2 separate regions of the Homo sapiens genome follow, and region 2 is linked to region 1. Evidence: fine-mapped expression QTL. A gene starts in region 1. The other region holds a variant in brackets. All regions are shown on one strand. Distances are from middle to middle. Region 1 holds the start of COL26A1 (collagen type XXVI alpha 1 chain). Region 2 holds the start of MOGAT3 (monoacylglycerol O-acyltransferase 3).

The links.
Region 2: its variant is fine-mapped to the expression of COL26A1 in pancreas (GTEx, PIP above 0.99).

What each region holds. Positions count from the first base shown.
Region 1 is chr7:101,355,341-101,370,257 of GRCh38, reverse strand. It overlaps COL26A1 (collagen type XXVI alpha 1 chain), which reads right to left and starts at 7,383. Exons shown (of 13, transcript NM_001278563.3): 1 at 7,068-7,383. The coding sequence starts at 7,225. RefSeq lists a silencer at 6,010-6,249.
Region 2 is chr7:101,195,764-101,210,680 of GRCh38, reverse strand. MOGAT3 (monoacylglycerol O-acyltransferase 3) reads left to right here and starts at 9,645. Exons shown (of 7, transcript NM_178176.4): 1 at 9,645-9,935; 2 at 10,166-10,273; 3 at 10,377-10,447; 4 at 11,851-12,055; 5 at 12,316-12,490; 6 at 14,292-14,494; 7 at 14,581-14,917. The coding sequence starts at 9,827. The coding sequence ends at 14,735. It overlaps PLOD3 (procollagen-lysine,2-oxoglutarate 5-dioxygenase 3), which reads left to right. Exons shown (of 19, transcript NM_001084.5): 13 at 8-149; 14 at 237-350; 15 at 520-588; 16 at 1,724-1,828; 17 at 2,957-3,103; 18 at 3,777-3,902; 19 at 4,245-4,697. The coding sequence ends at 4,400. It also overlaps the pseudogene DGAT2L7P and the pseudogene RPSAP46. RefSeq lists enhancers at 6,879-7,685, 7,686-8,493, 14,510-14,917. The variant A/G (reference allele first, on the strand shown) is at 5,769.

The sequences.
Region 1 (14,917 bases):
GGGGTGGCCAGGACTTGCAGGTGCTATAAGATCAGGGAAGTCTATTCTTACCCCTGAAAGGCCATATCAACCAGCATCATTTAAAATGTCCTCTTCAGGCCAGGCGCGGTGGTTCATGCCTGTAATCCCAGCACTTTGGGAGGCTGAGGCGGGTGGATCACCTGAAGTCGGGAGTTTGAGACCAGCCTGACCAACATGGAGAAACCCATCTCTACAAAAAATACAAAATTAGCCAGGCATGATGGCACATGCCTGTAATCCCAGCTACTACGGAGGCTGAAGCAGGAGAATCGCTTGAACCTGGGAGGCGGAAGTTGCGGTGAGCCGAGATCATGCCATTGCACTCCAGCATGGGCAACAAGAGCGAAACTCCATCTCAAAAAACAAATAAATAAAATAAAATAAAATGGACTCTTCAAAATGTACCCCAAGAAGAAACTGCTGATGGGAATGCAAAATGCTGTAACCCCAGTGGAGGGAAACTTGACGCTATCTAGCAGAATTAAACATGTGTTTGCCATTTACCAACACAAGTGTCTATCAGTAGAGGACTAGCTGAATAAATACAGTCACTCACACTGTACAGAACAACAGACCCATAAAAATGGATGCAGAACTCTACTAAAAAAAAATACAAAAATATTAGCCGGGTGTGGTGGCGGGTGATTATAGTCCCAGCTACTCAGAAGGCTGAGGCAGGAGAATGGCCTGAACCCGGGAGGCAGAGCTTGCAGTGAGCCGAGATTGCGCCACTGCACTCCAGCCTGGGCGACAGAGCGAGACTCTGTCTCAAAAAAAAAAAAAAAAAAAAAAAGATGCAGATTACCTTTGCTTTATTTATTTATTTATTTAAGACTGAGTCTTGCTCTGTCACCCAGGCTGGAGTGCAGTGACGTGATCTCAGCTCACTGCAACCTCCACCTCCTGGGTTCAAGCAATTCTCCTGCCTCAGCCTCCTAAGTAGCTGGGATTACAGGCATGCGCCACCATGCCCAGCTAATTTTTGTATTCTTAGTAGAGAAGGGGTTTCACCATGTTGGCCAGGCTGGTCTCGAACTCCTGACCTCAAGCGATCCACCCACCTTGGCCTCCCAAAGTGCTGGGATGACAGGCGTGAGTCATCATGCCCCCCCATCTTTGCTTTTTGATAGAGCCATCTCCACAACACGTTATGATGGAAAAAGGCCAAGTTGAAGACAGAGTAACTAGCATATTACCTCTGTGTAAGAAAAGGAGGAGGATACAGACACAAACACACACATACTCATACACACTGTTACGCTCACACACACACATACACACACAAATTGCTTACATTTGCAAAAAGAATTTTTTTTTTTGGAAAGAGCCAGATTTTGAGTGAGTTTTTTCTACCTACAAATAGTAAATAAGGGGGAAATTATAAGTATTCTAGCAATTACGAATTTTAAAAAGAGTCAAAATTATAGTACTACTTTGAAGTAGGAGGCGGGACTTGACTCTGGAGGTTGGGGTTGACACCGGACCAAATTGAGGACTAGCTAAAACAGGTTAGGACGAAGCACATCCCCATAAGACTCACTCACCAGGGCACCATGTCAGTTACCATTTGCCAGGGCAACACCCGGAAGTTACCATGCCTTTCCATGGCAACAACCCAACAACCTAGAAGTTACCACCTTCATCCTAGAAATTCCTGCATAAACTGCCCCTTAATTTGCATATAGTTAAAAGTAAGTATAAATAGTGCCAAACTGCCTCTGAGCTGCTAGTCTGGGCACACTGCCTATGGGGTATCCCTGCTCTGCAAGGAGCAGGACCTCTGCTGCAGCTGTACACTGCCACATCAATTAAAGTTGCTGTCTGAAACCACCCACTCACCCTTGAATTCTTTCCTGGGTGAAGCCAAGAACCCTCCTGGCTAAGCCCCAATTTGGGGGCCTGCCTGTCTTGCATCCACTTTGCGATCCTTAATGAAAGAATGACATACGCAATGATCACCAACACCTCAAGCATCACGAGAGAAAAAGAGAGACAACCAGACGTTGTGATTTCCAATGGAAAAACACTACAGCACCCAAGATGTAATTCTGCCAAAATAGAAAACGAAGGAGGAGGAAGAACTAGATCCAACCAAGCTCTTGATCTAATTTCCCATTATCTGGAAATAAAGAGGACAGATGAACATGTTCACAGGCACCATGAGCATATAACCAACAAAATCCTGAAAAAGGAACAATCTAGAAGGCCAAGTTTCTTCAACAAATAAATTGCAACAAAAAGAAGGGAGACAGTGGAGGAGACTTGTAGACAGTGGTGTTCTGCTGAATATTTAACACCCAGCTTTCCAGAATAAAGCCACATCCTTCTGTTAGTCAGCTCAAGGTTGCCGTAACAGAATACCACAGACTGAATGGCTTAAGTAGCAGACATTTATTTCTCATAGCCCTGGAGGCTGGGAAGTCTAAGATCAAGGTGCTGGCAGATTCAGTTCCTGGTGAGGGTTCTCTTTCTGGTTTGCAGACAGCCACCTTCTTGCTGTGCTGTGTCCTCACATGGCAAAGAGAGAGAGCTCTGATTTCTCTTCTTCTTTTTTTTTTTTTTTTTCTTTTTTGAGACAGAGTCTCACTCTGTTGCCCAGGCTGGAGTGCAGTGGCATGATCTCAGCTCATTGTACCCTCCGCCTCCCGGGCTTAAGCGATTTTAGTGCCTCAGCCTCCCAAGTAGCTGGGACTACCGGTGTGCACCACCACGCCCGGCTAATTTTTGTATTTTTAGTAGACACGGGTTTTCACCATGTTGGCCAGACTGGTCTCAAACTCCTGACCTCAGGTGATCCACCCACCTGGGCCTCCCAAAGTGCTGAGATTACAGGCATGAGCCACCGCACCTGGCCTCTCTTCCTGTTCTTATAACATCCCTAATCAAATAATGGGGCACAGCCCTCACAACTTCATCTAAATCTAGTTACCTCCAAAGGTCCCCCCTCCAAATACCACCACATTGGAGGATAGGGCTTCAACATATGAATTTGGTGGGGACACACACATCAGTCCAGAGCATCTCCTGATATAATATGGTAGACTAGACCACCTATGAAGAATTTCTGTCTCTCCCAGCAAGCCCAAATAGAGACCATAAATCTAATCAAACCTTCCAACCTAACTTCCAAAATAGAAGAGATACAGGGGGCAGAGGATCCAATTAATTACACCACTGGGAAGCAATTAGTCAAAACTAGTACGTGGACATTGCAGATCAAGTTAACTACACCACTGGGAAGGAAATAGCTAAATCTAGTACGTGGACATCGCAGAGAACAACTGGTCTTCAACAAGTCAACAGCGTGGAGGAAAAAGTACTCTCTCAAAGGGGGAAGACTTTCCTACACTAAAAGGGAGAGAAAAGACAGAATAACCAATAAGCAGACTTATTTAGATCCTGATTTGAACAAACTAACAATTAAAAACTGCTTTTTGGCCAGGCACAGTGGCTCACACCTGTAATTCCAACACTTCGGGAGGCCAAAGCTGAAGGATTACTTGAAGCCAGGAGTTCAAGACCACCCTGGGCAACATAGCAGGACCCCACCTCTATGAAAAATTTAAAAGTTAGCCAGCCATGGTGGCCCATGCCTATGGTCCCAACTACTTAGGAGGCTGAGGTGGGAGGATTGCTTGAACCCAGGAGGTCGAGGCTGCAGTGAGCTATGATTGCACCATTACGCTCCTGCCTGGGTGACAGAGCAAGACCCTGTCTTTAAAAAAAAAAAAAAAAAAAAAAAAAAAAAAAAAAAAAAAAAAATCAGACGTTAACAAGGAGCAGTAACAATGAAATTAAAGCACTCTTTGTCAAGAAACAGCCCTGTCATCATTGCCTGTCAACTGAAGCCAAGCCCCGGTAAACACACTACTGAAGGCCAAGGCTGCAAGGACCACTGCTGTCCCCAAGCCTTCAGCTTCTGGACATCTTGGATCTCAAGGACAAGGGACACTTGTGATAGATAGCTCATGAGACACAGAAACATGTGACGCCCAAGCCAGCTCCAGCCTGTAACTCACCCAGGCAACAACCAGGTGCCTGCAATGCCCACGCTGGGCTTTCTGGGCAAAGAGACTCAGTCACACTCTGGAATATCAATGTGCCCCAAGCCTCCCCAACACCTTCTGGTATCCTTTTTAGGAATCCATTGCCCACAGATTCATCCACATCCTCCCTAAACCTAATTATATCCTCTCCCTGTTCTTATCCTGGTGGAAAGAGTTCTGGAAGATTCCACACTTGTTTGAGCCTCTTTTTGTTTGTGCTAAAATGATCCCTTCCAAGTTTCTGCAGATGTCCCCAAGTTCCAACCCACCAAATGCCAGAATGAGGTCCCCATTCGCTCCCGCTCTTCATGGTCCTCACCTCTTGCTTTTTTGCAGGCGTATTTCAGGCTGCAAACACCTTTTTTTTTTTCCTTCCCACACCTTTTAATTACAAAAGTATTACATGAATATACGCTCCTTGCAAAACATCCATTCAATCCCCGTACCGGCCAGTAGGTTCTCTTAGGGACCAAGCACAGTGGCTCATGCCTGTGATCCCAGCACTTCGGGAGGCTGAGGCAGGCAGATCATTTGAGGCCAGGAGTTTGAGACCAGCCTGGCCAACGTTACATTTTTTATTGGCCAACAATACAAAAATTAGCCAGGCGCAGTGGTGGGCACCTGTAATCCCAGCTACTTGGGAGGCTGAGGCAGGAGAATCACTTGAACTTGGGAGGCAGAGGTTGCAGTAAGCCAAGATTGCACCATTGCACTCCAGCCTGGGAGACAGAGCGAGACTCTGTCTCAAAAAAAACACAGAAACCAGAAAAACATTCAGACAAGCCACAAGCAGACAGAGGGAAAATGGGACAGTCCCCTGGCCCAGCCCTAGACTTCTTCATAACATTAACTGCTGAAATGGTTTCCTAGAAACTTTTTTCAGGCATTTATCTACCTAGATGTAGATCTGATTTTCCTTTTCATAAATGAAATCGTGCTGTATATATTATTCTGTAACTTGAAAAGCTTGTTTTTTAGACAATCCTCATATGGAACTGTGCAGAGGCCACACTAGCGTGGGTGTTTGGAGAATGCTCCTCATAGAAGCCCCGGGTAAGTATTTCCAAACAAAATGAGAGAAATAGGATTGCATACAAACTTTTCCAGAGGCACTTTTATGCTTTTCTGGGTCCCGCCCTATTCAGCCATGACTGTATATTTCTTCCCAGCATGAAACATCCCTGTCTCCTTGTTATTAAGGAATTAGCCAGAAATCATCTTGGAGTCCTCTGATTTGGTAAATATCAAGGAGAAAAAAAGAACTAGGAGCTGTCTTTTAGCTTTGATAGGCAGAGCAGTATGCTAGAAAACACCAGATCTGGGCCTGGCGTGGTGGCTCACGCCTGTAATCCCAGCATTTTGGGAGGCCGAGGCAGGAGGATCTCTTGAGGCCAGAAGTTTGAGACCAGCATGTGTAACACAGTGAGATCCCACCTCTACAAAAAATCAAAAAATTAGCCAGTCATGATGGTGTACACCTGTGATCTCAGCTACACAGGAGGCCAAGGTCGGGGGATCACTTGAGCCTGGGAGATCAGGTTTGCAGTGAGCTATGATCGCACCACTGCATTCCAGCCTGGGGAGCAAGCAAGACCCTATATTAAAAAAAAAAAAAAAAGAAAGAAAGCACAAGAGGTCAGTCCTGAGTGGCTCCTAGGCCTAGCAAATCCTGAGCCTCTGTTTCTTCAGCTAAAGGAAAGATACTACTCTAATGTTTTAACCCTAGGGTTGTTAAGGATCAAAAGAAATGGAGATTGGGAGGCCAAGGCGGGAGGATCGCTTGAGCCCAGGAGTTTGCGACAAGCCTGGGCAACAGAGTTGAGATTCTGCCTCTGCAAAAAAAAAAAATTAAAATATAAAAAAGAGACGGAGGGAACAGACACAGGTAGTGCATTCCAGAGCGCTGTCATAGCTGTGTAGGTTGTAGTTATCACTAAATGAGAAAAGCTAAATTCAAGCGAGTTATGCAAACGAGGCGTTTGGCAACTTTTACTTGCATGCTTATGGTTTTCTGGGGAAATTCAAATGCGGGCTCCGGAGCCGCAGCCCTGAGCGTCCCGGGGGTGGCCATGGCGCCACCTGCCGGCCGAGAGGAAGGAGACGCCTGGCGGGTCCCGGCGCCCGGGCCCGGTGACCCTGCGCCCTCTCCAACCCCGCCACGGAGCCACCCGATCCCAGCCGGTTCCACGTCCCGGGGTGGCTGGGGAGTCGCAGCCGAGGATCCTCCGCGGCCTCAGCCCCAAAGACTGGGCGGGAATGACCCCTCTGGTGTCCTGGGGCCGCTGATAGGAGAGGGGTGCCCGGGACGCGAGGCCTTGGCCACCCGAGAACCTGCTCCGCGACACAAAGCCGCAGCCGCGCAGGTGAGCGGCAGAGCCACGTGAGCGGCCGAACGCCCCGGGCAGAGCCCCAGCCCCAGCCACGGCGGTCGGAACCACCTCTACTCGGAGCCCGGAACGAGGGGGCGAAGGTTGGGGAAGCGAAGAAAGGAAGGGACAGGGTGGGCGCGGCCAGAGACCACCGCAGCCCCGGAGCCGGACCCGAACCTTCAGCCCCCGCAACCCCGCAGCCCCGCAGCCCCGCGGCCCCAACCCCCAGCCTCCTCCATCGCTCGTTCCAGCTGCCCCGTCTGCAGCCCCCAACCCCCGCCGCCCCGCGCCCCAGCCCCCAATCGCCCTGCACCCAAGGCCCTTCGGTCTTTCCCCCCGTGACCCCAACCCCCAGCCACCGCCATTTCGTCCCAGTTGCCCCGTGTCCCCTGCCCCTGGCATCCGCCACCCCGCGCCCCCAGGCCCGAATCGCCCCGCACCCCAACCCCCTCCAGCTCTCGTTCCAGCTGCCCGGTGTCTGCAGCCCCCAGTCCCCGCTGCCCTGCGCCCCCAAGTCCCGGATCGCCCCGCTCTCCAGCCCCCAAGCCTCGCTCCAGCCACCCAGTGGCCAGGGCCCCCGCTGTCCGCTCCCTCCCCCCACCCCCCGGCCCCTCGGCCCCGAGCTACTCACCGGCGGCTCGCGTAGCCGCTGCCAGGGGAGCCGGCGCCGGGCTCGGGGTAGCCGTGCTGCTGCAGAGCTGCGGCCGAGAAGGGATAGAGGAAGCCGGTGGCCAGCGCCGACCCGCAGAGGCAGCAACACGCCCAGGGCAGGAGCAGGGCCAGCTTCATCGTGCGCAGCAGCCCGCGGGGACCCGGAGTCCCGGGCACGAGGACCGGCAGGAGCGCACCGGCGCCCGGACCGAACCCGCGGCACCGGCCGGGAGCACAGCGAGAGGAGCGGGGCGAGCGGTCGGAGCCCGGGTGCGAGCTGGAAATGTGTGGGGGGCGCCCACGCCTCTCCGGGGCCGCCTTTTCAAATTCGGCGAGGTGGGCTCTAAGCCGTCAAAGGGGGCGTGGGGCTTTTTTGTTAACCCTCGGCGGTCCGGGGCCGAGGAGGCGGCAGTGGCGGCAGAGCTAGGGTGCGAGCTCCGCAGGAGGTCCCTGGAGCCTAACACCCCGAAAGCCAGACCTCGCGCCCAGGCCCCCGCTACACACCTTAGAACCTTTGAAACCAAACCTTCTTCGGGTCCGCGAATGCTTTCGGAGCGCCCATTCTGTGTCTGCCAATTTCACCTGGACGATGTTGGTGAATCCTCGCCACACTGCCCTCGATGGTCCCATTCAGAAGTGGAAACTGAGGCTGGAGAAAGTTAAGCCAGACAAATGCGAGTCTTCCGATCCTTGTGCAGGGCTCTTTGGATCAAAGCGCTGCGTTCCCGTGAGAAACTGACCAGAGCTTCCCAGGATTCTCCTCCTTCCCCTTTAACCTCCAGCCCCCACCTGCCCCGCTGTCTCTTCCAGGTAAGAAGCTTTGGGAGGGGCGGAAGGGTCAGTTGGGGTGAGAAGTTGTAGCTAGATTGGGAGGCCGAGGTGGGCGGATCACCTGAGGTCAGGAGTTCGAGACCAGCCTGGCCAACATGGTGAAACCTCGTCTCTACTAAAAATACAAAAATTAGCCTAGTGTGGTGGCAGGTGCCTGTAATCTCAACTACAGGCTGGGCTGAGGCAAGCCAATCACTTGAACTCAGGAGGCGGAGGGTGCAGTGAGCCAATATCAGGCCACTGGCCTCCAGCCTGGATGACAAGGTGAGGCTCCATCTCAAAAAAAGAAAAAAGTTGTAGCTAGAATCACAGATTCATGAGACATCCTATCCAGAAAAGGGCTTCAGGAAGATGTAGGACAATCCCACCTTTTATAAACAGAAAAGCAGAGTCCTAGATCCCATGCTGGGCCCAAGGCCAGCCTGGACCCAAGTTTTGGTCTTTTCTATGTTGCAGGATTCCCATAGGGCTTGGACCCTGCTCCAGGCCCAGGTGGGACCAGAAATCCAGCCCGTACTCTACTCGCCCGGGTTAGGAGCATTTTGTTCCTTTTTTTTTTTTTCTTTTTCTTTTTTTTTTTTTTTTGAGTTGGAGTCTCGCTCTGTCACCCAGGCTGGAGTGCAGTGGTGCGATCTCGGCTCACTGCAACCTCTGCCTCCCGGGTTCAAGTGATTCTTCTGCCTCAGCCTCCCGAGTAGCTGGGATTACAGGCAAGCAATACCATTTCGGGTTAATTTTTGTATTTTTAGTAGAGACGGGGTTTCGCCATGTTGGCCAGGCTGGTTTCGAACTCCTGACCTCAGGTGATTCACCCACCTCCGCCTCCCAAAGTGCTGGGATTACAGGTGTGAGCCACCTAGCCCGGCCTGGGAGCTTTTTTCCTAATTCTTCCAAAAGCAACCTAAGGGTGCAGATGCCCTGAGGCTTGCTCTGCCCCTGTGACCAGTTGAAAACTCCTGTCTGTAAAATGCCTACAGGATGGAGAAAAACCATCAAATATGGAAGTGTTTGCTGGACTGGAGCACATTTTGCAAAAGGATTGTAGAGGCCAGTGGCAATGGCTCACTTCAGTAATCCTAATCCTTTGGAAGCCGGGCACAGTAGCTCACGCCTGTAATCCCAGCACTTTGGGAAGTTGAGGTGGGCAGATTACTTGAGGTCAGGAGTTCAAGACCAGCCTGGCTAACATGGTGAAACCCTGTCTCTACTAAAAAAATAGAAAAAATTAGCTGGGCGTAGTGGCATGCACTTGTAATCCCAGCTACTCAGGAGGCTGAGGCAGGGGAATCGCTTGAACCCGGGGTTGCAGTGAGCTGAGATCATGCCACTGCACTCCAGCCTGGGGGACAGAGTGAGACTCCGTCTCAAAAAACAAAACAACAAAGACCTAATGCTTTGGGAGGCTGAGGCGGGAGGATTGCTTAAGGCCAGGAGTTCGAGGCCAGCTTGGACAACATAGTGAGACCCCCCCATCTCTACAAAAAAAAAAAAAAAGCAAAGCGTGGAGGTGTGTGCCTGTAGTCCCAGCTACTCAGGAGTCTGAGGCAGGAGGATTGCTTGAGCCTAAGGGTTCAAGGCTGCAGTGAGCCATGATGGTGCCATGACACTTCAGCCTGGGTTACATACTGAGCCTGTCCTTCTCCCCTCAAAGAAGGATTGTAGGATTGTTGTTAGAAGACGACAGGAAGATGGCCAAGCATGGTGGCTCACGCCTGTAATCCCAGCACTTTGGGAGGCCAAGGCAGGTAAATCACAAGGTCAGGAGCTCGAGACCAGCCTGCCCAACATGGTGAAACCCCGTCTCTACTAAAAATACAAAAATTGGATAACTAGCCCTGCCCCTGCCCCTGCCCCTGCCCCTGCCCCTGCCCCTGCCTCTGCCTCTGCCTCTCCCTCTCCCCTCTCCCCTCTCCCTCTCGGTCTCCCTCTCCCTCTCTTTCCACGGTCTCCCTCTGATGCCGAGCCGAAGCTGGACTGTACTGCCTCTGCCTCTGCCTCTCCCTCTCCCCTCTCCCCTCTCCCCTCTCCTCTCGGTCTCCCTCTCCCTCTCTTTCCACGGTCTCCCTCTGATGCTGAGCCGAAGCTGGACTGTACTGCTGCCATCTCGGCTCACTGCAACCTCCCTGCCTGATTCTCCTGCCTCAGCCTGCCGAGTGCCTGCAATTGCAGGCGCGCGCCACCACGCCTGACTGGTTTTCATACTTTTTTGGTGGAGACGGGGTTTCGCTGTGTTGGCCGGGCTGGTCTCCAGCTCCTAACCGCGAGTGATCCGCCAGCCTTGGCCTCCCGAGGTGCCGGGATTGCAGACGGAGTCTGGTTCACTCAGTGCTCAATGGTGCCCAGGCTGGAGTGCAGTGGCGTGATCTCAGCTCGCTACAACCTCCATCTCCCAGCCGCCTGCCTTGGCCTCCCAAAGTGCCAAGATTGCAGCCTCTGCCCGGCCACCACCCCGTCTGGGAAGTAAGGAGCGTCTCTGCCTGGCTGCCCATCGTCTGGGACGTGAGGAGCCCCTCTGCCTGGCTGCCCAGTCTGGAAAGTGAGGAGCGTCTCTGCCCGGCCGCCATCCCATCTAGGAAGTGAGGAGCGCCTCTTCCCGGCAGCCATCCCATCTGGGAAGTGAGGAGCGTCTCTGCCCGGCCGCCCATCGTCTGAGATGTGGGGAGCGCCTCTGCCCCGCCGCCCCGTCTGGGATGTGAGGAGCGCCTCTACCCGGCGGCGACCCCGTCTGGGAGGTGAGGAGCGTCTCTGCCCAGCCGCCCCGTCTGAGAAGTGAGGAGACCCTCCGCCCAGCATCCGCCCCATCTGAGAAGTGAGGAGCCCCTCCGCCCGGCAGCCGCCCCGTCTGAGAAGTGAGGAGTCCCTCTGCCCGGCAGCCACCCCGTCTGGGAAGTGAGGAGCGTCTCCGCCCGGCAGCCGCCCCGTCCGGGAGGGAGGTGGGGGGGTCAGCCCCCCGGCCCGGCCAGCCGCCCCGTCCGGAGGGAGGTGGGGGGGTCAGCCCATCCGGGAGGGAGGTGGGGGCGGTCACCGCCCGGCTAGCCGCCCCATCCGGGAGGGAGGTGGGGGGGTCAGCCCCCCGCCCGGCCAGCTGCCCCGTCCGGGAGGGAGGTGGGGGGGTCAGCCCCCTGCCCGGCCAGCCACCCCGTCCGGGAGGGAGGTGGGGGTGTCAGCCACGTCGGGAGGAGGTGGGGGGTCAGCCGCCCGGTCCAGCCGCCCCGTCTGGAGGGAGGTGGGGTCAGCCCCCCGCCCGGCCAGCCGCCCCGTCCGGGAGGTGAGGGCGCCTCTGCCCAGCCGCCCCTACTGGGAAGTGAGGAGCCCCTCTGCCAGGCCAGCCACCCCGTCTGGGAGGGAGGTGGGGGGCTCAGCCCCCCGCCCGGCCAGCCGACCCGTCCGGGAGGGAGGTGGGGGGTCAGCCCCCCGCCCGGCCAGCCGCCCCGTCCGGGAGGTGAGGGGCACCTCTGCCCGGCCGCCCCTACTGGGAAGTGAGGAGCCCCTCTGCCCAGCCAGCCGCCCCGTCCGGGAGGGAGGTGGGGGGGTCAGCCCCCCGCCCGGCCAGCCGCCCCGTCCGGGAGGGAGGTGGGGGGGTCAGCCCCCAGCCCGGCCAGCCGCCCTGTCCGGGAGGTGAGGGGCGCCTCTGCCCAGCTGCCCCTACTGGGAAGTGAGGAGCCCCTCTGCCCAGCCAGCCGCCCCGTCCGGGAGGGAGGTGGGGGGGTCAGCCCCCCGCCTGGCCAGCCGCCCCGTCCGGGAGGTGAGGGGCGCCTCTGCCCGGCCACCCCTACTGGGAAGTGAGGAGCCCCTCTGCCCAGCCACCACCTCGTCTGGGAGGTGTACCCAACAGCTCATTGAGAACGGGCCGGGATGACAATGGCGGTTTTGTGGAATAGAAAGGGGGGAAAGGTGGGGAAAAGATTGAGAAATCGGATGGTTGCCGTGTCTGTGTAGAAAGAAGTAGACATGGGAGACTTTTCATTTTGTTCTGTACTAAGATAAATTCTTCTGCCTTGGGATCCTGTTGATCTGTGACCTTACCCCCAACCCTGTGCTCTCTGAAACATGTGCTGTGTCCACTCAGGGTTAAATGGATTAAGGGCGGTGCAAGATGTGCTTTGTTAAACAGATGCTTGAAGGCAGCATGCTCGTTAAGAATCATCACCACTCCCTAATCTCAAGTACCCAGGGACACAAACACTGCGGAAGGCCGCAGGGTCCTCTGCCTAGGAAAACCAGAGACCTTTGTTCACTTGTTTATCTGCCAACCTTCCCTCCACTATTGTCCTATGACCCTGCCAAATCCCCCTCTGCGAGAAACACCCAAGAATGATCAATAAAAAAAATAAAAATTAAAAAAAAAAAAAAAAAAAATACAAAAATTGGCTGGGCGTGGTGGCGGGCGCCTGTAATTCCCAGCTACTCAGGAGGCTGAGGCAGGAGAGTCACTTGGACCTGAAAGGCGGAGGTTGCAGTGAGCCAAGATCTCGCCACTGCACTCCAGAGCAAGACTCTGTCTCAATAAATAAATAAATGGAATGTCCATACTTCCCAAGTCCCAAGTCTCTGTCTTAAACTCAGAGTTGGTCATCTAGGAGTAAACAGCCTCCTAATGGAATTGCTTCGTTCCTCTCGCCCTCCTTCCCTCCCTTGAGGCCTAAAAGATTTGGAGAATTTAGGTTATCAGGGGATGTTCAGTGCCTCCCCCAAAAAGAATCTGAACTGTGCTCCTTGGGCAGTTGGCCAACACCTAATAAATGATGAGGTCATCCCCCCCCAGGAATTTGTAAGCGTTCTTCCTTCCACCTTCCCCGCATAATGAGATCTTAAAGAGCAGAGAAATTCCATATTCCATGTTGCTGTCAACCGGGCTTTATGCTGCTGGGCATCACGGTAAGGGAACAGCAATATCGTTTATTATCTTCAACTCATTTTTCCAGTGCCAGGGGCTGCACCCAAGCTAGAGTGACCATGGAGAAACAGGGAGACAAAGGAATAACATTACTCCATATAGTGCTAGAGTATTTTAGGACAAAAGCCTCTTTTTTTTTTTTTTTTTTTGAGACTGGATCTCGCTCTATCGCCCAGGCTGGAGTGCAGTGGTATAGTCTCAGCTCACTGCAACCTCTGCCTCCTGGGTTCAAGTGATTCTCCTGCCTCAGCCTCCCAAGTAACTGGGACTACAGGCGTCTGCCACCACACTCAGCTAATTTTTTTTTTTTTTTTTTTTTTTAGTAGAGAAAGGGTTTCACCATGTTTGCCAGGCTGGTCTTGGACTCCTGACCTTTGGTGATCCGCCCACCTCAGCCTCCCAAAGTGCTGAGATTACAGACGTGAGCCACTGTGCCCAGCCTAGGATGAAAGTCTTTAGGACAAGCATGAATACATCCCAGAAACTGCAGGAATAAGACAGTCATCTGAGTTTCATCTTTTTTAAACCGTGCCTCTGTCTCCCAGGCTGGAGTGCAGTGGTGCCATCTCAGCTCACTGCACCTCGACCTCCTGAGCATCATTCCTCCCACACCTCAGCCTCCCGAGTAGCTGGGACTACAGGCATGCACCACCAAGCCCAGCTGATTTTTATATTTTTAATAGAGATAGGGTTTTGGCATGTTGCCCAGGCTGGCCTTGAACTCCTGGCCTCAAGGAATCCACCCGCTTTGGCTTCCCAAAGTGTTGGGATTACAGGTGTGAGCCACCATGCCTGGTCCTCTTCTTCATGTCCAGGACAATAGGTTCATTCTGGCCCGTAAGCATATAACAAGCCACTTCTATGTGCCCGTCTCTGTGCTGGGTGCAGCGAAGGGATGTTGAAAATGCAAATAGCCTGGTACCCACCCTCCAAGTGCTTACAATATTATTTCAGAAGGCATTAAAAAGATAGCTGGCGGCCGGGCGTGGTGGCTCACGCCTGTAATCCCAGCACTTTTGGGAGGCCAAGGAGGGTGGATCATTTGAGGTCAGGAGATCGAGACCAGCCACACCAACAGAGTGAAATCCAGTCTCTACTAAAAATAAAAAAAAATTAGCTGGGCATGATGGCGCACGCCTGTAGTCCCAGCTACTCGGAAGGCTGAGGCAGGAGAATCGCATGAACCCGGGAGGCAGAGGTTGCAGTGAGCCGAGATCTCGCCACTGCACTCCAGCCTGGGCGACAGAGCAAAACTCCGTCTCAAAAAAAAAAAAGATAGCTGGCAGACTGCACAGATGCATACGAGATGAGGTTCCCTTTTTTATTTTTATTTCATTTTATATTTTTACTTTTTTTTTTGAGACGGAGTCTGGCTTTGAAGCCCTGGTAGTGTAGTGGTCTAATCTCGGCTCACTGCAACCTCTGCCTCCTGGGTTCAACCAATTCTCCTGCCTCAACCTCCCAAGTAGCTGAGATTCAAGCAATTCTCCTGCCTCAGCCTCTGGAGTAGCTGAGATTATAGTGCCCACCCCGACGCCCAGGTAATTTTTGTATTTTTAGTAGACACGGGGTTTCACCATGTTGGACAGGTTGGTCTCAAACTCCTAATCTCAAATGATCCACCCACCTCAGCGTCCCAAAGTGCTGGGATTACAGGCATCAGCCACCGTGCCCAGCCAATTTTATTTTTAGACAAAGTCTTGCTCTATTGCCCAGGCTGTAGTGCAGTGGCACAATCATAGCTCACTATAACCCTCGACCTCCCAGGCTCAAGCAATCCTCCCACCTCAGCCTCCCGAATAGCTGGGACTACAGGCATGCACCACCAAGCCTGGCTAATTTGCTATTTTTGTTTTTCATAGAGACAGAGTCTGGCCATGTTGCTTAGGCAGGTTTCGAATTCCTTGCCTCAGCCTCTCAAGGAATTTGCATTGTTTTTAATGAAAAAACACACATATGGTGAACAGTAAAAGTGGGAGAATTGAACAGCCCTAAAATCAAGTAGTCAACAGAGTCCTCCAAAGGGCCAAGTTTTCTACATTAGAATGTTAGCTGCAGGCCAGGCGCAGTGGCTCACGCCTGTAATCCCACGCCTGGGATTA
Region 2 (14,917 bases), 160 kb after region 1:
CCTCCAGGGGTGTGTGGAATGTACCATACATCTCCCAGGCCTATGTGATCCGGGGTGATACCCTGCGGATGGAGCTGCCCCAGAGGGATGTGTTCTCGGGCAGTGACACAGACCCGGACATGGCCTTCTGTAAGAGCTTTCGAGACAAGGTGAGCGCGGGTGCACGGTCTGGCCTGGGGGCAGTCCCCCAGACTCCAGGCATCGCCTGCATCACGGACACCCCCACCCCACTACAGGGCATCTTCCTCCATCTGAGCAATCAGCATGAATTTGGCCGGCTCCTGGCCACTTCCAGATACGACACGGAGCACCTGCACCCCGACCTCTGGCAGATCTTCGACAACCCCGTCGTGAGTGGGGACCCCACGCCCAGAGCACACAGGTTCCCCGCCTTGTGCTAAGGAAGACACCAAACGTGATGGCTGCTGCCAGCGCAGGACACTGAGTGGGAGGGGGCGGTCCCCTGGGGGCTGGGAGCGAGGGGGGCACAGATCTGATGTGCCCCCCACCCTCTCACAGGACTGGAAGGAGCAGTACATCCACGAGAACTACAGCCGGGCCCTGGAAGGGGAAGGAATCGTGGAGCAGGTGAGCCCACGCAGCCTCCCCACCCACCCCCTGCCCTCATGGCCATCGCCTCTTGGGGGCCCCCGCCTGGATTCAAAGTTTTCACACTGAGTTCCCCAGAGATCTGAGGGTTTTCTGTTCAGACAAGATGAAGGCAGAGGCCGAACAGAAAGGACTCTTGCCCCCAAAGCCAGCATTGATCAGACAGCCTCTTCTCCTGTATATTGGGTATACTGGTGTTATGCTTGAAATCACATCTTAAAAGAAGAATGGGGCTGGGCTCAGTGGCTCATGCCTGTAATCCCAGCACTTTGGGAGGCCAAGGTGGGTGGATCGGTTGAGGCCAGAAGTCCAAGACCAGCCTGGGCAACATAGCGAGAATCTGTCTCTACAACAACAACAAAAAAATTAAATAAGAAATGAGGCCAGGAGTGGTGCTCATGCTTGTAATCCCAGTACATTGAGAGGCCGAGGCAGGCAGATCACCTGAGGTCAGGAGTTCGAGACCAGCCTGGCCAACATGGCAAATCCTGTCTCTACCAAAAAAAAAAAAAAAAAAAACACAAAAATTAGTCAGGTGTGATGGCGTGCACCTGTAGTCCCAGCTACTCGGGAGGCTGAGGTGGGAGAATCGCTTGAACCTGGGAGGCAGAGGTTGCAGTGAGCCAAGATCACGCCACTGCACTCCACCTTGGGTGACACAGCGAGACCCTGTCTCAAAAAAAAAAGAAAAGAAAAAATTAGCTTGGCATGGTGGCATGTGCCTGTAGTTCCAGCTACTTGGGAGTCTGAGGCGGGAGGATCGCTTGAGCCCAGAAGGTCGAGGCTGTAGTGAGCTATGATTGTGCCACTGCACTCCAGCCTGGTTGACAGAGCAATACCCTATCTCAAAAAAAAAAAAAAGAGGTATGCACTGTTACGGAAGTTTGGAAACCACTGTCCCAGCACGAGGGGCTCCAGGACCCTCTGCCACCTCTCCTGTGCCAGAAACCGGTCCTCAGCCTTGCCACTCCCTCAGCCCCTACCTGGCGGGTCCCCGGCTGCTCTCACAAAGCCTTCCCTGCTCCTCCCTGCCCCTTCCCATTCTGCCTGCTGCCTGTCCCCTTCCCCGTTCTGCGGCGTCAGCTAGCCCTGTTCTCCCTCGCCCCATCCTCAGCCATGCCCGGACGTGTACTGGTTCCCACTGCTGTCAGAACAAATGTGTGATGAGCTGGTGGCAGAGATGGAGCACTACGGCCAGTGGTCAGGCGGCCGGCATGAGGTAAGGGCCTGGGCGAGGAGGGCAGAGGCCTTCCCAGAGGAGGAGGTGCAGGATCTGGTAAACAAACAATGGAATCAGGAAAATGGGAGCAAAGAGGGGTTCCCAGGGGGGAGGCAGACCCTGGGGTCACAACTGCATTCATTCATGTATTCAAGAAATATTTACTGCTGGGCACAGTGGCTCATGCCTGTAATCCTAGCACTTTGGGAGGCTGAGGCGGGAGGATTGCTCGAGCAGGGGGAGTTTGAGGCCAGCCTGGGCAACATAGCGAGACCCTGTCTCTACAAAAAATTTAAAAATTAGCCGAGTTTGGGCCAGGTGCGGTGGCTCACGCCTGTAATCCCAGCACTTTGGGAGGCCGAGGCAGGTGGATCACCTGGGGTCAGGAGTTCGAGACCAGCCTGACCAACATGGAGAAACCCCATCTCTACTAAAAACACAAAATTAGCCGGGCATGGTGGCGGGCGCCTGTAGTCCCAGCTACTCGGGAGCTGAGGTAGAATTGCTTGAACCCGGGAGGCAGAGGTTGCAGTGAGCCAAGATTGAACTCCAGGCTGGGCAACAAGAGTGAAACTCCATCTCAGAAAAACCAACAAATTAGCCGGGCATGGTGGCATGTCCCAGCTATTCAGGAGGCTGAGGCAGAAGGATCACTTGAGCCCCAGAGTTAGAGGCTGCAGTGAGCTATGATCATGCCGCAGTACTCCAGCCTGGGTGACAGAGCAAGACTCTGTCTCTAAAAAAAGAGAAAAGGAAATCATTCCTGGGCCACTGTCCTAGACTGCACTGCAGGAATGCCTCATGCCGGTCGAGCTCTGCCCTGCTGTGAGCAGCAGCCACCACACAGCTTCTAAGGCTGCGATGAGCAGCCTGGGTGCAATAGAAGCCACGGGGAAGCCTTGACCCAGACTTGGGAGGAGTAGGGAGCTTCACAGGACAGGTGACATCTTAGCTGAGACTTGAAGGGCCGGGAGCAGTGAGTCAGGCCGAGAAGTAGCAAAGAAGACTGTTCTGCACAGAGGAACACAGGTGTGAAGGCTGGAGGACGGGAGGAAGGAGGCTGGACTGCCCTGGGGTGGGGAGCGCCATGGCTGGAGGGGCGGGTGGCTCAGTGCCCGCCGCCCCCAGGATTCAAGGCTGGCTGGAGGCTACGAGAATGTGCCCACCGTGGACATCCACATGAAGCAGGTGGGGTACGAGGACCAGTGGCTGCAGCTGCTGCGGACGTATGTGGGCCCCATGACCGAGAGCCTGTTTCCCGGTTACCACACCAAGGTGCGCTGCCCACCTGCCAGCTGCCTCCCCACCTTCCCCACCCCAGTCCCGGACAGGAAGTCTCCACGCAGACCCCTTTCGGCCCCGGCAGCATTTGGGCTCCATGCATTTTAGTTCCCAGGGGAATGAGACGCTGCAGGAGGCACCCCAGGGGAGGGAGGGCGCCAGGCTGAGACCCAAGGTGAGGCTTGGCCCTAATTTAATGCCAGTGAGCAGCGAGAGCCTCCTACGCAGGGGTCCCGCCGCCCCTCCCCTCCCCTCCCTGGACAGGGACCGTCATCTCCCTGAAGACACCCTGCGATGGCCGGGCGTGGTGGCTCACACATGTAATCCCAGCACTTTGCGAGGCTGAGGTGGGTGGATCACCTGAGGTCAGGAGTTCAAGACCAGCCTGGCCAAGATGGTGAAACCTCGTCTCTACTAAAAATACAAAAATTAGCCGGGTGTGGTGGCAGGTGCCTATAATCCCAGCTACTCGGGAGGCTGAGGCATGAGAATTGCTTGAAACCGGGAGGCAGAGGTTGCAGTGAGCCAAGATCGAGCCAAGATCGCACCACTGCACTCCAGCCTGAGTGACAGAGCGAGACTATCTCAAAAGAATAATAATAATACAAAATAAAAGACCCCCTGCGCCCGCAGCTGTCCCTGCAGCCTCTTCCCTCCTCTCCCCCAGGCGCGGGCGGTGATGAACTTTGTGGTTCGCTACCGGCCAGACGAGCAGCCGTCTCTGCGGCCACACCACGACTCATCCACCTTCACCCTCAACGTTGCCCTCAACCACAAGGGCCTGGACTATGAGGTGCGCCCCAGTCACACTACCCACCCACGCTTCACCTCAGGACCCTCGGGTCCCCACCTAGAGCCCCTGCGTGCATCCCCCAGCTCCCCTCCCTGCCCATTTCCCAGTGACTTTGTGGGTATCAGCTCCTGGATCGCTTCTGGGCAGGCGGCCTCTGCTTCCTCCTGGATCTTCCTGTCTGCAGGCACCCCAGCCTCCGGTGTCTGCCATATCTGCCATCTCCCTTGTCACCCCGGTCTGCTGCACCGTGCCCCCCGGTCTGGCCGCCCTGCCCCGTGTATCTGCCTGCTCCCCAGGCCCCACGTCTGCTCACTCCATGTTTCCTTTCCCTTCTCTTTCCAGGGAGGTGGCTGCCGCTTCCTGCGCTACGACTGTGTGATCTCCTCCCCGAGGAAGGGCTGGGCACTCCTGCACCCCGGCCGCCTCACCCACTACCACGAGGGGCTGCCAACGACCTGGGGCACACGCTACATCATGGTGTCCTTTGTCGACCCCTGACACTCAACCACTCTGCCAAACCTGCCCTGCCATTGTGCCTTTTTAGGGGGCCTGGCCCCCGTCCTGGGAGTTGGGGGATGGGTCTCTCTGTCTCCCCACTTCCTGAGTTCATGTTCCGCGTGCCTGAACTGAATATGTCACCTTGCTCCCAAGACACGGCCCTCTCAGGAAGCTCCCGGAGTCCCCGCCTCTCTCCTCCGCCCACAGGGGTTCGTGGGCACAGGGCTTCTGGGGACTCCCCGCGTGATAAATTATTAATGTTCCGCAGTCTCACTCTGAATAAAGGACAGTTTGTAAGTCTTGAGTCCATTGGTCTGCCCATTAACCCCATCTCCCCTCCTGCCAGCAGCGTAGAGGGGAGAGACCCAGAAAAGCGAAGACAAGAGGAAAAGGGAGAGGCAGAATGTTAGACCCTCGTGGGAACCTGGGAGCTTCCCTGGCTCCCACTTTCCCCTTCCCCTGTATTGCCTGAGCTGGAGACAGTGTGTGAGAGGGGCCGGGCGCGGTGGCTCACGCCTGTAATCCCAACACTTTGGGAGGCCAAGGGGGGCGGATCACGAGGTCAGGAGATCCAGACCATCCTGGCTAACACGGTGAAACCCCGTCTCTACTAAAAATACAAAAAATTATCCAGGCGTGGTGGCGGGCATCTGTAGTCCCAGCTAATCAGGAGGCTGAGGCAGGAGAATGACATGAACCCGGGAGGCAGAGCTTGCAGTGAGCTGAGATTGTGCCCCGGCACTCCAGCCTGGGCCACAGAGTGAGACTCCATCTCAAAAAAAAAAAAAGTGCATGAGAGGGCACAGACCAAAAGAGGGACTTCCCAGGCTGGGCACAGTGGCTCACACCTATAATCCCAGTACTTTCAGAGGCCAAGGCAGGCGGAGGATCACTGGAGGCCAGGAGTTCAAGACCAGCCTGGACAACATAGCGAGACCCCCCCCATCTCTACAAAAAATAAATTAGCTGGGCGCGATGGCTCACGCCTGTAATTCCAGCACTTTGGGAGGCTGAGGTGGATGGATCACCTGAAGTTGGGAGTTTGAGACCACCCTGGCCAACATGGTGAAACCCTGTCTCTACTTAAAAAATACATAATTAAGCTGGGCACGGTGGCCCATGCCTGTAATCCCAGCACTTTGGGAGGCTGAGGCGGACAGATCACGAGGTGAGGAGTTCAAGACCAGCCAGGCCAAAATGGTGAAACCGCATCTCTACTAAAAAATACAAAAATTAGCTGGGCATGGTGGCGGGCGCCTGTAATCCCGGCTACTTGGGAGGCTGAGGCAGGATAATTGCTTGAACCTGGGAGGGGGAGGTTGCAGTGAGCTGAGATCGCGCCATCACACTCCAGCCTGGGCAGCAAGA[A/G]TGAAACTCCAACTCAAAAAAATAAATAAGCCGGGCTCAGTGGCTCACGCCTGTAATCCTAGCACTTTGGGAGGCCGAGGCAGGCAGGCAGATCACTTGAGGTCAGGAGTTTGAGACCAGCCTGGCCAACATGGTGAAACCCTGTCTCTACTAAAAATACAAAAATTAGCCAGGTGTGGTGGCACAGGCCTGTAATCCCAGCTACTCAGGAGGCTGAGGCAGGAGAATTGCTTGAACCTAGGAGACGGAGGCTGCAGTGAGCCAAGATCGTGCCACGGTACTCCAGCCTGGGTGACAGAGCAAGACTTCGTCTCAAAACAAAAAAACAAAACAAAAAAAGCTTTCCACGCTACCCACAGAGGGCTCCATCCGGCGTTGTTCTGGATTCCTGTTGTAACTTAAAGAGAAACTTTCACAACATCCGGAGCCCTTGATGTCCTGCAAATGAAGGAGGAAGATGTCCTTAATTTCCTTGCAGCAGGAAACCAATTAGGTGGCACCAACCTTGACTTACAGATGGAACAGTACATGTATAAAAGGAAAAGTGATGGCATCTACATCCCAAATCTGAAGAGGACCTGGGAGAAGCTTCTGCTGGCAGCTCGTGGCATTGTTGCCATTGAAAACCCCGCTGATGTCAGTGTCATACCCTCCAGAAATACTGGCCAGAGGGCCGTGCTGAAGTTTGCTGCTGCCACTGGAGCCACTCCAATCGCTGGCCGCTTCACTCCTGGAACCTTCACTAACCAGATCCAGGCAGCCTTCCGGGAGCCACGGCTTCTTGTGTTTACTGACCCCAGGGCTGATCAGCAGCCTCTCACAGAGGCATCTTATGTTAACCTACCTACCTTGCTCTGTGTCTCACAGATTCTCCTCTGCGCCATGTGGACATTGCCATCCCAAGCAACAACAAGGGAGCTCACTCAGTGGGTCTGATGTGGTGGATGCTGGCTCGGGAAGTTCTGCGCATGCGTGGCACCATTTCCTGTGAACACCCGTGGGAGGTCATGCCTGATCTCTACTTCTACAGAGATCATGAAGACATTGAAAAAGAAGAGCAGGCTGCTGCTGAAAAGGCTGTGACAAGGAGGAATTTCAGGGTGAATGGACTGCTCCGGCTCCTGAGTTCACTGCTACTCAACCTGAGGTTGCAGACTGGTCTGAAGGCGTGCAGGTGCCCTCTGTGCTATCTAGCAGTTCCCTACTGAAGACTGGAGCATTCAGCCTGCCACAGAAGACTGGTCTGCAGCTCCCACCACTCAGGCCACTGGATGGGTAGGAGCAACAACTGAATGGTCTTAAACACCTGTACTGTGAGCTCCCCCTGCCCCATCTTCCAGCCCAGGTGCACCTGGCAGCCTGGCTCTTGCATTCCTCGGCTGGGCTTGGATGCTGGCGGTCCTCTACCTGGTCTGGCTCTATTGGGATAGAAACATACCCAGGGCTGGAGCCCGCAGATCTGCCTGGGTTTGCAACTGGGCAGTTTGAGACATTTCTGTGACTACTTCCCCCTCTCAGTGAGGACCTGGGCTGTGGGGTGCTGGGTGCGGTTGGGGCTTCAGAATAGACTCTTGGGACCACCATCTCCCAAAGTGCAATCTCACCGTTGGGGTGGGGTGCGCCCGTCTGCTCCCCAGCTAGTTAAAACTGCAAAGTTGGGCACCTCCTGGAACTACCTCTTTGACTTCCACCCTCACAGGGTCCTGGTCGTGGGAGCCTTCGCCAACTTCTGCACAGAGCCCACGGGCTGCTCCTGCCTCTTCCCCAAACTCCCGCCACACCTGCTCATGCTGCCTTGTTGGTTCCATCTCCTCTTCTTCCAGGACTACATCATGTCAGGTGGTGAGAAGAGGAGGACCTTGCTGCTGTCTCCCGCCCCACCATCCTCTTCCCAGGGGACACTGGGGCCCAGCTCTCCTTTCCCCATGTCCTCTCCACTCTTCTTTCCAAGTCCCAGGCTTTGGCTGGGTGCGGTGGTTCACACCTGTAATCCCAGCACTTGGGAGGCGCAGGCGAGAGGATCGCTTAAGGCCAGGAGTTCAAGACCAGCCTGGGCAACACAGTGAAACCCCATCTCTACACAAGAAAAAACAAAAACAAAAATTTAGCCAGGTGTGGTGGTACACACCTGTGGTCCCAGCTACTGGGAGGCTTGAGGTGGGAGGGTCACTTGAGCCCTGAAGGTCAAGGATGCAGTGAACCAAGATCAGGCCACTGTACTCCAGCCTGGGCAACAGAGCAAGACTCCGTCCCTAAATAAATAAGTAAATAAGACCCAGGCGTTGGGTCCCCCAGCTTCTGCCCTCCCCCCAGGTTTGGTCTCCTTTGTCAAGGCCCCGCTGCCTCAGTGGTGGCCAGGTGGCTGTCCTGGCGTGGGAGGGCCCCTGCAGGCGCTGGAGGCAAAACCCGGACAACTGAGCTTGCCGATTCGGAATCAGAAGAGATTGGTTAAGTCAGCTCTGGAACTCGGGTGAGGACCCGAGCGTGACCCGGTGGGGACGCCCCAGGGCTGCCGGGCCGGGGAGGAGGAGAGTGGCGCCACCCGCGGACCCCGGGGCCAGGAGTCAGCCGCGCCATGCTCTCCTGCGGCCTCCCTAGTGCCTGTCTTCTCCAGGGAGAATGAGCTCTTCCAGCAGTTCCCGAACCCGCAGAGCTCGTGGGTGCAGAGGACGCAGGAGGCTCTGCGTCCGCTGCTAAGCGTGGCCCTGCAGCTGTTCCTGGGCCGCCGGGGCCTCCCGCTGCCCTTCCGCGCGCCCATCCGCACCGTAGGTGAGCCCCGGCCTCCGCCCCGCGATCCTGGCCCAGGGCCCGCTCCCTCCCCGTCCCGGGTTGGGGCCACCCAGACTGGCCTTTGGCCACCGCGCCAGCCCTGAACTCTGTTCCCGCCTATCCCCAAGGAGGAAAAGAGGAGGAGAACCGGGGATCCCAGCCCAGATCGCCTCCCGTCCCGCCCGCAGTGGGGTCGGCGATTCCCGTGCAGCAGAGCCCCCCGCCCAGTCCGGCCCAGGTGGACACGCTGCAAGCGCGCTACGTGGGGCGACTCACGCAGCTCTTCGAGGAGCACCAGGCGCGCTATGGTGTCCCCGCCGACAGACACCTGGTCCTCACGGAGGCGCGCCCCACCGCCTGGCCTCGCCTGTCCGCTGGGTGACTGCAGGTGGGGAAGTGAAATTAAAGACTGGCGGCAGGGCACGGTGGCTCACGCCTGTGATTCCAGCACTTTGGGAGGCCGAGGCGGGTGGATCACTTGAGGTCAGGAGTTCGAGACCAGCCTGGCCATCATGGTGAAACCCCATCTCTATTAAAAATCCAAAAAAAAAAAAAAAAAAAATTAGCCAGACGTGGTGGCGCGCCTGTAATCCTAGCTACTCGGGAGGCTGAGGCAGGAGAATCGTTTGAACCCGGGAGGCGGAGGTTGCAGTGAGCCGAGATCGTGCCACTGCTCTCCAGCCTGGGTGACCGAGACGTGTGAAAAAAAAAGAAAAAAAAGAAAAGAAAAGAAAAAGAAAAAAATTAAAGTGGGAAACAGACCTGCAGCCTGTGTGTGTTTGTGCATGGCGGGGGAGGTCCAGGCAGGGGTGGTGACCTTGACATTCCTGGAGATGCCCCGGACCAGGCCCTGCCCCCACCCCGACTGGAGGTCAAATAGTCTCAGCAGGGCTTCTGGCCCCTTCCAGCACCTGGGACCCAGTGGGTGGGGCTAGCCAGATCACTCTTGTCCACTCCAACATCAATTCCTGAGGCACTCGGGTGTCACCTCTCCCTTGCACACCCCTTACGCCTCCCAGCCCCACCCAGCAGCCAGCCCAGACTGGTGACTGACAGGAAGTTCAAAGATCAGGCTGAGAAAAAACCCAGAGACATCTGGGGCTCTGGATCCAAAGATCTCCCCACTCACACACCTACGGACACACGCTACTCTGGGAGGTGATTTGCGACTTAGCCAGGCCCCCAAAGCTGGGCTCCTGTAGGGAGAAAGTCTGCCCAGGTCCACATCCAAGCCTTCATCGTTTGTCCTCCGGGTTCTGGGATCCTGCTGGAAGAGGGGAGCTTCTGCAATGGGAGTTGCCACAACCCTGCAGCCCCCAACCACTTCCAAAACCTTGCAGAAGCAGCATCTAGAAGCAGTGGGCGCCTACCAATATGTGCTCACTTTCCTCTTCATGGGTGAGAGCTGGGGAGGCGTGGGTGCCTGGGGTCTGCCAGGGGAGTAGGGCTTGGAGGGAGAGTGGCTGGGCTGCTGGCTTGCATGCCTGAGGACAGTGACCAGGTGACTGGTCTGGGAGAGGGCCAGAGGAGAGAGCTGGTTGTTCTGAAGGGGAGGAAGGGAAGGGAGCAGCTGGAGGGAATGATGGAGTTTCAGAAGTGAACTCTTTTCTTTCTCTCCCTTCCCCCAGGCCCTTTCTTCTCCCTTCTTGTCTTTGTCCTCCTCTTCACGTCACTCTGGCCCTTCTCTGTTTTTTACTTGGTGTGGCTCTATGTGGACTGGGACACACCCAACCAAGGTGAGCTCCGGATGGGGGCCCAGGTAGCCAGAGATGGTGGGGACATGGGGGGTGAGGGGAGGTGACTCCGGGGGTTCGTCCACCAGTATCTCATTGTCCGCAGGTGGAAGGCGTTCGGAGTGGATAAGGAACCGGGCAATTTGGAGACAACTAAGGGATTATTATCCTGTCAAGGTGATGGGTCACCCTGCAGAAAAACTGCTTCCTACCTCTCCCCATCTCCCTCCCACACCTAGGAGCCCTTCCTTGTGCTGGGGCCTGAGCTCCCCGCTGCCTAAGCTCAGGCAGTGGGACAGGGAATGGATTTTTTTTTTTTTTTAGACTGAGTCTCCTGTCACCGAGGCTGGAGTGCAGTGGTGCAATCTCAGCTCATTGCAACCTCCGCCTCCTAGGTTCAAGCTATTCTCATGCCTCAGCCTCCCTAGTAGCTGGGATTATAGGTGCCCGCCACCATGCCTGGCTAATTTTTGTAGTTTAGTAGAGACAGGGTTTCAACATGTTGGCCAGGCTGGTCTCAAACTCCTGGCCTCAAGTGATCCAGCCACCTCGGCCTCCCAAAGTGCTGGGATTACAGCCTTGAGCCACCGCGCCCGGCCTGGGAGTGGATGATGTTCAAGAGCGGGGCCTTGGTGGGGCACCATGGCTCATGCCTGTAATCCAAGCACTTTGGGAGGCCGAGGTGGGAGGATTGCTTGAGCCCAGGAGTTGGAGGCTGTAGTGAGCCATGATTGCGCCACTGTACTCCAGCCTGAGCAACAGAGTGAGACCGTCTCTAAAAAAAAAAAAAAAAAAAGGCGGTTGTGGTGGCTCAAGCCTTTAATCCCAGCACTTTGGGAGGCTGAGGTGGGTGGATCACCTAAGGTCAGGAGTTCGAGACCAGCCTGACCAACATGGAGAAACCCCATCTCTACTAAAAATACCAAACAAATTAGCCGGACATGGTGGCACATGCCTGTAATCCCAGCTACTCTGGAGGCTGAGGCAGGAGAATTGCTTGAACCAGGGAGGCGGAGGTTGTGGTGAGCTGAGATGATGCCATTGCACTCCAGCCTAGGCAACAGGAGCAAAACTCTGCCTCAAAAAAAGAAAAGAAAAAAAGAGAGAGTGGGTGAGGTGGCTTACGCCTGTAATCCCAGCACTGTGGGAGGCCAAGGCAGGCAGATCACGAGGTCAGGAGTTCAAGACCAACCTGGCCAATATGGTGAAACTGCGTCTCTACTAAAAATACAAAAATTAGCTGGGCATAGTTTCGCATGCCTGTAATCCCAGCTACTCGGGAGGCTGAGGCAGGAGGATAGCTTGAACCGGGACCAAGAGGCGGAGGTTGCAGTGAGCCGAGATCGTGCCACTGCACTTCAGCCTGGGCTACAGAGCAAGACTCCATCTCAAAAAAAAAAAAAAAAAAAACCTGGGCCCTTAACCCTATCCTAAGAACCTTTAACTCGGAACTCTGCTGGGGTGGCCCTTGACCCTATCCTAAGAACCTTTAACTCGGAACTCTGTTGGGGTGGAGGGCCCCTCTTTTCAGCCGGTGTCTTGCCTTCCATCCTCCCTTCATCCTGCTCAACACCCCGAAGCTGGTGAAAACAGCAGAGCTGCCCCCGGATCGGAACTACGTGCTGGGCGCCCACCCTCATGGGATCATGTGTACAGGCTTCCTCTGTAATTTCTCCACCGAGAGCAATGGCTTCTCCCAGCTCTTCCCGGGGCTCCGGCCCTGGTTAGCCGTGCTGGCTGGCCTCTTCTACCTCCCGGTCTATCGCGACTACATCATGTCCTTTGGTGAGCCGAATGGGAGGAGGAGAACGGGAGGAGACTCCTGACCAGATGTTCCCCAGCCCCTCTGGGACCACCCCCCCCCATAATAAGTCCCCCACCCAGGACAGGGGCCAGCCTGAGCACTGCCCAGACTTGCAGTGAGCATTTGGGTAGGTTCCCCGCCTTGGAGATGGGGGTAGGGGGCTTGGAACTAAAGGCTGGGTGAGGGGCGGGGGTGCCGTGGAGGCAGATGGGAACTACTTTCCACCTCCTCCTGCCCACAGGACTCTGTCCGGTGAGCCGCCAGAGCCTGGACTTCATCCTGTCCCAGCCCCAGCTCGGGCAGGCCGTGGTCATCATGGTGGGGGGTGCGCACGAGGCCCTGTATTCAGTCCCCGGGGAGCACTGCCTTACGCTCCAGAAGCGCAAAGGCTTCGTGCGCCTGGCGCTGAGGCACGGGTGAGTGCGCGTGCAGGCCCTACCTGTCAGTTCTCTGCTGGTTTATGCCCTCTCTCAGTCCCCAGACATCTAGGTCCCTGCATGGGGGATCCGGGTGCCCAGAGACCAGCGCCCTGCCCTGCACCGAGGCCCACGTGGGCTCTCCAGGGCATGACTCGGTACCAAACATGGGGCCCGCTTACCCTAAGCTCCCTCCCACATCCGTGGAGACAGGACCATAATGCAAATAGCAGGGCCCTCGGTCTCAGAAGCCCTGGCTTCCCTCTCTGACCCCAACTCAAAGGCAAGACCTTGCACTTGTTTCTTTTTTTGTTATTGTTGTTGAGACAGAGTCTCGCTCTGTCGCCCAGGCTGGAGTGCAAAGGCGTGGTCTCGGCTCACTGCAACCTCCGCCTCCCGAGTAGTTGGGACTACAGGCGCCCACCACCACTCCGGGCTAATTTTTGTATTTTTAGTAGAGACGGGGTTTCACCATTTTGGCCAGGCTGGTCTCGAATTCCTGGCCTCAAGTGATCCGCCCACCTTGGCCTTCCAAAGTGCTGGGATTATAGGCGTGAGCCACCGTGCCCGGCCGGACTTGTTTCTTTACTTGCGAAGAGGGCTGATACCTACCTTGCCACGATGTTGTTATTGCAAAGACCGAATGAGAAAATGACTATGAGAAGGCCCACTACACAACTGTGTCTCAAGAAATGTGAGTCCCGGCTGGGCGTGGTGGTTCACACTTGCAATCCCAGTGCTTTGGGAGGCCAAGGCAGGAAGATCACTTGAAGCCAGGAGTTCAAGACCAGCCTGGGCAACATAGGGAGACATCATCTCTACAAAAATAAAATAAAATAAATTAGCCAAGTGTGGTAGTGCACGCCCGAAGTTTCAGCTATTCGGGAGGCTGAGGTGGGAGGATGGCTTGAGCGGAGAAGGTTGAGGCTGCAGTGAGCTATGATTGCACCACTGCCCTCCAGCCTGGGCAAGAGAGCAAGGCCTTGTCTCTTTTAAAATTTTTTAAATTATTTATTTTTTAAAATTTTCTAATTTTTAATTTTTGGAGATGGAGTCTTGCTCTGTCACCCAGGCTGGAGTGCAGTGGTGTGATCTCGGCTCGCTGCAACCTCCACCTCCCGAGTTCAAGCCTCTGAAGTACCTGGGACTACAGGTGCACGTCACCACGTCTGGCTAATTTTTGTATTTTTAGTAGAGATGGGGTTTCACCATATTGGTCAGGGTGGTCTCGAACTCCTGACCTCAGGTGATCCACCCACCTCAGCCTTCCAAGGTATTGGGATTACAGGCATGAGCCACCGCACCCAGCCTATTTATTTTTTGAGACAAAGTCTCACTCTGTCACCCAGACTGAAGTGCAGTGGTGTGATCTTAGCTCACTGCAACCTCTGCCTCCCAGGTTCAAGCGATTCTTGTGCCTCAGCCTCTGTAGTAGCTGGAATTACAGGTACCCACTTCCACACCTGGCTAATTTTTATGTTTTTGCAGAGACGGGGGTTTCACCATGTTGGCCAGGCTGGTCTCCAACTCCTGACCTCAAATGATCCTCCCACCGTGGCCTCCCAAAATGCTGGGATTACAGGTGTGGTTACAAGACCCTCTCTCTAAAACAAAGAAAAAGAAAGAGAAAGAAATGCGAGTCCTGTCTTCTAGATCTTTCTTTGTAGCCATAGTCATGTGCTTTGAATGACCCTGGGAGGTAGCATCTGGACGTAGTGGGAAGGACTTGTAGCCCCTGGGGGTGCCCATCTCGGAGCAGTCCAGCAGCCTGAGCCCCCTCTTCTCTCTTGCTCCTTCCCAGGGCGTCCCTGGTGCCCGTGTACTCCTTTGGGGAGAATGACATCTTTAGACTTAAGGCTTTTGCCACAGGCTCCTGGCAGCATTGGTGCCAGCTCACCTTCAAGAAGCTCATGGGCTTCTCTCCTTGCATCTTCTGGGGTCGCGGTCTCTTCTCAGCCACCTCCTGGGGCCTGCTGCCCTTTGCTGTGCCCATCACCACTGTGGGTGAGTGCCCACCTCCGGGGGGACGGCCACCAGCAGCTGCGTGGGCATCAGGGATCCCTCGCCCACCTGTCTCCCTCTCCCTGCAGTGGGCCGCCCCATCCCCGTCCCCCAGCGCCTCCACCCCACCGAGGAGGAAGTCAATCACTATCACGCCCTCTACATGACGGCCCTGGAGCAGCTCTTCGAGGAGCACAAGGAAAGCTGTGGGGTCCCCGCTTCCACCTGCCTCACCTTCATCTAGGCCTGGCCGCGGCCTTTCGCTGAGCCCCTGAGCCCAAGGCACTGAGACCTCCACCCACTGTGGACTCCATGCCTCCAATAAAAGGTAGTTCTGGGCCCAGCGCAGTGCCTCATGCCTGTAATCCCAGCACTTTGGGAGGCCAAGGTGGGAGGATCGTTTGAGCCCAGGAGTTGAAGACCAGC